Homo sapiens: one gene and its partner. The protein of the gene in region 2 interacts with the protein of the main gene of each other region in a pairwise test. Each region holds a gene or a part of one and is shown on either strand. Other genes may lie near its edges.

Region 1 (4,410 bases), on a different chromosome or scaffold from region 2:
ACAGCAGCACTGCGCTCCAGCTCTTCCCAGCAGCCTCTCAGGGGCTGGTGTCCTGAGGTTATGTCCCAGGGTCTTGAAAAAAGCCAGAAACAGCACCTTCTCACTAGGGAAGAAACACACACACACCCCTTCTTTCCCAAGCCCCTCGCCACCCAAACAATTCTTAAAATTCTGATGTTAATCACATTGGGAGCATTTCCTTTTACTTATTAAAATGTGCTTGCATTTCAGCCAGAGAGATTTAGATGGTAACTGGTTTCTATAAGCCTGGAAGTATTTCTGAAGGATTATGATTCAACATGAAATGCACATTCTTGACCTTATTATCTCCAACTTTCCTGGGTCTGGCCAAAGGTCCTCAGAAAAGGCTTTTTAAACAAAGATCCTGGTGTGAACTGCTGCTGAGCTTTGTTCTTTCATTTTTCATGCCTTGTAAATAATTCCTGTTTAAATTCAAAACTTCCTCAGTTGTGTCTCTACAGATTCCTTCACAGAATCCTTGCTCTCTTCCCATGTGAACTGAGGTTAAAAACATGACATACAAGCAGATGATGTTCAAGTCACCGGCATCTTGTATTCTTCCAAATTCAATGTTAAAACGTTCAAAAAACATTATGTCAATAAGGCTCCATTCCCCCCTAAACGTACATTGTTGATTCTACCAAAATGGAATACCTTTTTGGAGTTGAAAACATTGACCAGCTCTGGGTCTCCGAGATTGAGTCTGGAAGGCACCTCCCACATTGAACCTACCTGTCTGCGTTTTTTGGCTTCAAGTATTAAAGCTTCCTTTGGCAGAAATCCCTTTGAACACCAATAGGGTGCGTTGCTTTTCTTCTTCTTCTTCTTTTTTTTTTTTTTTTTTTTTAACTTTTTAGTTAATTCGTTAATAACCTCCTGACTAGGAGGGCTGGTTAGGATGTTCAGGTCAAAGGACAGTGGGATGCTGAACCCACAACCCCACATCCTCATTGGCCCCCATCGCACTCCCCGTCGCCCCCACCCCCAAAGTCTTTGCTTCCAAACCATTGAGTCCTCCCGCAAATGCCCTGGAAACTCTTCTCCGGGAAATCCCGGCTGTCCCGCCTACCGCCCGCGCATGGAAGCGCCTGATGACAATCAGGATACCACCAAGGGTTCCTCCCTGCGCGTCCCTCTGGGATCTGAGATGACCAAGACCTCGAATGGAAGGGGGTCGTCCTAAGAATTGAGGGAAGCGAGCTTTACCTTGACGAAGAGGGTGATGTCGTGCTCCTGCCCCAGGGCCCGGGGCTCGGACGCCTCTCCGTCCTCCCGGCGGCCGTTCACGCGCGCGGCCTCGCCGCTACCCTCGGCGGGGCCCTCCTCGGCCAGGTGGTTGCTGAGCTGGGCCTCAGGCTCCGCGGCGCCCCTGGAGGCCTCCCCATGTGGGCTGCTGTCGGGGGATTCCTCTTCGCCCCCCGCTGCTTCCTCCTCCCTTGGCCCCTCCGGGCTCCGCTCTCGTCTCTCTTCGTCCTCCCCCGGCTCCTGCTGTGGCCCATCCCCTACCCTGTCCTCGCCAGCGTCTGCCCTTGCGTCCCCGGGGGCCGCTTCTTCGGACCCCTTTACCCCCGGGACCTCCGCCTCCTCCGCTGCGTCCCAGGCGAGCTCACCGGGGCTGCGCCCCGCACTCTCCCCGGCTGCGACCTCAATTGCCTCGGCCTGGGGCGAGAGGCTGCCGTCCCCCGATTGCTGCGGCTCACCCGAGACCCGGCGCGCCCTTCCTGCCGGACCCTCGGCGTCCATGCTGTCCCCCGCCGGGCCTTCGGCTTCTACGCTGTCCCCCGCCGGGACCCCCGCTTCTACGCCGTCCCCCGCCGGGTCCCCCGCCTCTACGCTGTCCCCCACCCGGCCCTCCGCGTCTACGCTGTCCCCCGCCGGACCTTCCGCGTCTACGCTGTCCCCCACCCGGCCCTCCGCGTCTACGCTGTCCCCCGCCGGGCCCTCGGCTTGTATGTTGTCCCCCAGCGGGCCCTCCGCGTCTACGCTGTCCCCCGCCGGACCTTCCGCGTCTACGCTGTCCCCCACCCGGCCCTCCGCCTCTACGCTGTCGCCCGCCGGGCCCTCCGCTTCTATGTTGTCCCCCAGCGGGCCCTCCGCGTCTACGCTGTCCCCCGCCTCCCCGGACGCGCTACCTTCCGGGACCTCAGGCCTCTGCTCCGCCTCCTCCTGCCTCTCGGGGGCCGCAGAGTCCTCGGGCTCCCTCTGAGCCTCCCCGCGGGGCTCGCCCTGCGCGCCGCGTCCCGGGCTCGCCCCCTCCACCTGCTGCGCGCCGCTTGTCTCCTCCCCTCCTTGGGGCACCTCGGCACCCTCCGGGGCTCCCTCCTCGGCCTCAGTCTCGCCGTGCGCCCCCCTCGTGCCCCGCGCCTCGGCCTCCGGGCCCCTGTCTGGCCCGCCGCCTCCTGCCTCCTTCACAGCGGCGGCGCCCCTCGGCGCCTCCTCTGCGCCCTCGCTCCCCTCCGGCCCTTCTGCCTCCCCGCCCGCGGCTCCTGGCTCTCCGGGTCTCTCAGCCAGAGGCGCGGGGACCTCCGGCGGCCCCTGGGGACCCGGGGCAACCCCCTCCGGCTCCGCGGCCTCGGCCATGGCCGCAGATCCCTGTCCTTGATCGGGACTCCTTCCTTGACGCTGCTTAAGGGTCGGTGGCGCTGGGCAAGGGGCGTGCTACGGGGCCCTCTGTGCTCCTTGAAGGACGCCGGCTCCGGGATCCTGCGGCAAAGGTTTAGCCGGGGCACTGGGGCCTTGCGCAGGACCCGCAGGGCAAACTCCGCTTGGCCCCAAGCCTCTGCGCCCCTTCTGCCCAGCTGAAACTCCCTGGACTCTTCCTCCACTGCTGGAGCTTCTCCCCGATTGCGCGTCTGCTTCCCACCGGGACCCCAATCTCGCCCGCGGGCCGCGGAGGTGCAGTGCACGGCTGGAGAGGGCTGCTTCGCTCCTGCGCCTTTGGAAGTGCCCGGCCCGCTGTCCGCTGTCCTGGGGTTGACCAGAAGTCCTTGGTGCCAACTCCATCCCCTGGGGCTTGGGCGGGGTTTGTCTTCCCCTCCTCCCTCCTTTGTTTGGGTAGCCTAGGAGCTTGGCCAATGACAGCCTTTCTCGTGACCCTTGTGGATGTTGATGAAAAGATTCTGGTTCTCCTGGCCGCTTGGGTGTTGTTCTCTAGAATGGCTTCAAGTTCCAGAGTCACTTAAATCACCCCCTCCAAACACACACCCCGACACCCAAACACCTAATCCCCACCTTACCCCAGGAGTGAAGCATCAAGCTCCCCCGGTACCCAACTGAAGATGTCCACATTGTGCCTGATGTCCAAGAGCAAGGGTGTAAATCCCTGAGAGAAGAAGCTGGGGAGGCTACGCTGGCCGCCTTCCCATGTCTGCAGGGCCCCCGGAGAGGTTCCAGAGGCCCCTCATATAGACGCACAAGGAGCCAGTCGAGTTTCTCTGACCAGAGATGGGCGCTGTTGTCCATGAGGGTCCGCTTCTCCGGGCCTGTCTGGAGGATCGTGGGAGCCCTGCGCTGGAAAAAGGTTACACCTTCATCTCCCGGGTCTCTTAAGACTGTAAGAGTCTGTGTATCTTGCTGATTCTCCTAGATTTCTAAACTCACCACCAGTGCTTCTGCCTCCAAGTTAAGAGCTTGGGAATCTGGAGGTGGAGAAAAGAAAATCCAAGATGTGAAAGAGGGGAGCTATGGAATTCCCTGGGTTAGGGTTCTCCCAGGATCACAGACCCAATACCTACTTTAAAAAGGAAGTTATTATGGTGAAAAGTATGTCGTAAGTTTATTATAAGCCAGGCTACTTCTAGTGGGTTACCAAGAAACTGGGTTACCCAAGGTGGCACTATGTAAATGTGGTGGAACGGGGATCCCAGCTCAAGACTGACTTGATTCATCAGGCTTTATATGGCTTTGATATTGGCCTAAGATACATGAGCCCCTCATGCCCACAGAAGGTTGTTTTCGTTGAAAGAGCTGGGTGTGCCTTTGATGTGGCTTGGGGTCACACCTTTGGCCATGAACATAATGTGTCTCCTTCTACTTCCCATTGCTCATCACTGATGGATGACAGGACAGGAGCCCAGAGACACTCAGCTTCATGCTACCTTTCTCCAAGGCTGTGCTCTGTCTGGGTAGGTACAGGCCAGAAGCTTCATCACCACAAAGTGGCATCTAGTCAAAGCATGACACTCACACAGGTGAGCCAGAGATGCACGTGAGCCGTAAAAGCTCTAGGCACCTAGAAAAGGAATCCTGCTGCATTCACCGGGGCAAGGTAGCAGCCATCACCCTTATCTTGTAAAGAAAGATGAAGCCAGCACGTTCAGCCCGGAACAGCAAACACAGTACAGGTTTACAGTGCTTTATGCAAATCCCATGAGCCCGGATGTGTTTCAG
Region 2 (3,812 bases):
TTAGCCACAGGATCAACAACCAGCAAGCATCACCATCATCACTAATCAACTGAATCTCATTTTGAACAAAATGAGAATGCTTATCAAGACTACCTTATAATACATTTAAGGAGGCCAGGCACATACCCATAATCCCAGCACTTTGGAAGGGTGAGGTGGGAGGATTGTTTGAGGCCAGGAGTTCGAGACCAGCGTGGGCAACATAGCAAGACCTCATCTCTACTTACATAAAAATAATTTTTTAAATGAAACTAATGCATTCAAATACAGGCAAAGTATAATTTACCATATCAAGAATCACTACCAGCTTGGAGCTGCCATATCAGGGTGAAAAGTGACAGCGTGTCACTCATCTTTGTGTCCTTCACAAAGCCCAACATTGTACCTGCTACCCAGTAGAGCCTCAAAACATGTCTGCTAAAATGGGAGGCTTTTGTTTTCATTTTGTTGCTGCTTGCAACTATACAATAAATAAATACTTATTTTGGCTAAGCAGTACTTAAATCAAAAAGGAAATTATCTTTGTGTTATTGATTTTTCTTTTCATATTAATAATGCTTAACTAACATTTCCCTCTGGATGTCCGGTCAGGCTGGATAAAGGAGCATCTTACCCTTCCCAGGACAGACTAGTCGGCCTCTGCAGTCTGACTAAAAACCAAGGAGACCAAATGTGAAGTCAGCGTGGGACACAAGAGATTCGAGCGGTGGGTCTAAGGAAAGGCTTAGATGCTTTGCCTTTGAAATCTGGTATGCTGGAAATCTCTGCTGAGGAAGTTTGAATTCACAACTTCATGAGCAAATATCTCCTCGAGTTTTTTTAGTTCGGCTCACTTCCCAGACCTCCACACTATTAGTCCACGTGAATTCAGATAGGGTGCACCAAACATCAGAAAGAGTGTGAACATGACCAGCATTATCTGCTGAGAGTAACACAGGAGTCTTCAGCACAAAATCGATGGAAACATAAACTGGATTCAACAAATACATGGGAAAACATGTCTGGGTTTTTCTCTGGGACCACAGTTTATTGGTGATCCTCCATGAAAGACACAAGGCAGATACAAGCACCATAACTCTAGCAAATGGCACACAGTGCCAGACATCAGTAAAGTCTAGAGAATTTGAGAATCAACAGAGGTCATAGAATGAGATCCTGCAGAACTTGTTTGGGCACGTGTGTGTGTGTGTGTCTGTGTGTGTGTGTGTGTCTGTGTGTGTAGAGTCAATGATGTGAGTGATAACCTTGGACAAATAGAAAGGGCCAAACACTATGGATGCCAGCTCAGGTGTCTGGACTTTCTCTGTTTCTAGGGAGTCATGAAAGCACGGAGAGCTGTGTCTCAGGAAAGGCAGCGCTAATGGAGATGGGTCAGATGGGAACTGAAAGCAGACAGTGAGGCGTGGAGGCTCCTGCCACAGCCTGTGAAACAGTGAATGAAATGCAGCCTCAGTGAAAGCAGTGGTGCTGTGGTGAAGAGGAGGAGGCAGATTCTCATGCTGTCGGACAGGATGCTTGTCCAGGTGGAAGTGGAGAGTGAAAGAGAGGGGTCAGGTAACTCTGAAGTTTCTTGCCTGAATAACTGAAAGGATGAAATACACTTTCAGAGAAAACAATTGTGGTGAGTGCTAGTTTGTGCAGTTACGAGAATTAATTCACTTCAAGTAACAAACCTGTACATGGACCCTCGAATCTAAAATAAAATTTAAAATTATTTTTAAGAAAGTAAAAACAAAAAAGAAGTAATTAATTAAAAAGTTAAAGATTAGATCTATGGATCATTGGGCAAACTGTAGACAAAACAGCCTAGATGACTGAAATTTTTGCTTTTTGGTCCATCATGGGGGCATCAGCTGGATACAAACCAAAACGTGCTCACCTATAACCAGCTAATAATTCCTCCAAAAACACCCTTGGCTGATAGGTTTGGCTTGAGTGGTCATTGAAGACTGCTAAATTGTAGGCTTCTAATATAAGGAGGAATAGAAAAAGGTAGCAATTGCTTTAAAGGTAAAGGAGGCCATGGATATTTTTTCCTGGACAGATCATATTTTGAAGGACTAAATGATAAAGCCTTAGTAAGGATGGACTTATTCCTTCTTTTGTTCATGCCTTTTGCTTTTCCATTTGTTTTTAGTTTTTAATTTCTTATGGATCAGGTATTTATGTGTTGATTGTGGATTAATTTTTAAAATAACGCTATTCCCCTCCTTTGACCCTGAAAGATCAATTCTGTCTTTCAAACAAGACCACATCCAATTGGAATACTAAGAAATTTTTTCTGGTCATGTCGGATTCTTACGTGCAGTGTTTTTGTTTTGTGTTGTTTTATTTGAGCATGATACTAAAACTACCCTGGAAATCACTCCCTGAAAATAGAACACTCTCGGGAATTACAGGGGTTTATAATTAAAATATGTTATAAGTGGGTGGCGAAGTGGCCACATTTTGTCCTCTTAAATTTGAATTTCACTTCCATCATGAGCCCATATCATTGGGGACTTCAGTCTGTAGTTGAGAAGGAACAGGGCTGTAATGTGTGAAAACACATTTCCCTAAACTGCATTCACTAAAAGTACCACTTTCTATCACTAAAAGCAAGCTAGAACGCATAATCGTTGTCATTGGTTATGTTTCGAAACTGGCCCTATGTAAAACATGAATGAAATTGCATTTGCTTGGGAAAGGTTTTTATTGTTATGTTTAAACCCATAAATGAGATTTTTAAAAAATGTATATTACAACTAATCTAATGAATTTTTATTGAATAATTTTATTCTTTCTCTCTCTTCTCTACGGAATGTGGGTTTTTGTTTTTCTTGTTCTCCAACACAAACTGCCAGCCATGGCCTACCAGGATCTTTTCCCAAACACTGCATGTAACTTCAGATACCATGTCTATTTTCCTCAGTACCCCAGACTGACATTTCAACAAGTACTTCTCATCATAGCTTTTTCAGAAGCTCTGAAAAAGCATCTGGGGGCATACTGACATTATCAGATTTTTAGGGTGGATGATGGAAATAGGACATTTGCTTTAACCCTTCCCAACAATAAAGCAAGAAACCAACGAACTGTCTTCCTACGTCAATCAAGCCGAATTGATTCTGAAATTTATCTCTTCACAGTGTATGATGGGTGAGTGTGGCAATTCACAATCACAAATGCTGTTGGAATTCATTGCAAACCTCAATGGCTTGTGTGATCTAGGCCTAATCTGGTGGTCCAATGCCATTGGTCTTCATGTTCCAAAGGGGGATTGGCAGCCCATATGGGGTTTTCAGGGCACTGGACAGCCCTGTCTCACAGAAGAGATCTTTCTCTGTGGGATCCATGCATTCCCACAATTGTTATGATCGTTTCATAGTTCATATTCAGAGCCTTCTCATATATTTCCTACACACCGCACATGAGTTTATTAGACCTTTTCCTGAGGATAGGCGGAAGCAGAGAATATTGGGCAAGAAGGATGGAGAGCAGAGTCTTCAGGCACAGGGTCCTGGAGATTAGGGACAAACTTTGGCCCCTGACAATTTTGCATAAGTTCAGCTCTGGCACAAGTCTACCATGTTGAGGTTAGCCAATCTGAGTTAACCGAGAACACACTGGGAGAGAATTACTCGCCTTTTGTTATTTCTGAAACCTGAACTGCTTTTAGAAATAAAGGCTGGAATGTTCCATAGGAACTCGGAGCATGGGGCACGGGCATGGCACACACTCGGTTGGGCTATTTAAAAACCAGTCCCTTGGCTTCCCTCTGTGATTCTAAATACGTGAAATCACATTACCCTGCAGCAGCCGGTAACTATTTC

What was found.
Region 1: the proteins of LGI1 (region 2) and CLIC6 interact in a two-hybrid assay, tested with the Homo sapiens proteins (one large-scale study listed by BioGRID and IntAct).

Annotation. Positions count from the first base shown.
Region 1 is NC_000021.9:34,667,580-34,671,989, reverse strand, and holds the start of CLIC6 (chloride intracellular channel protein 6), read right to left. Parts: upstream 2,997-4,410; 5' UTR 2,602-2,996; coding exon 1,228-2,601; intron 1-1,227. UniProt on the Homo sapiens protein: In the soluble state, catalyzes glutaredoxin-like thiol disulfide exchange reactions with reduced glutathione as electron donor. Can insert into membranes and form voltage-dependent chloride-selective channels.
Region 2 is NC_000010.11:93,760,678-93,764,489, reverse strand, and holds part of LGI1 (leucine-rich glioma-inactivated protein 1 isoform 1 precursor), read right to left. Parts: intron 1,401-3,812; exon of another isoform or gene 1,314-1,400; intron 707-1,313; exon of another isoform or gene 592-706; intron 1-591. UniProt on the Homo sapiens protein: Regulates voltage-gated potassium channels assembled from KCNA1, KCNA4 and KCNAB1. It slows down channel inactivation by precluding channel closure mediated by the KCNAB1 subunit.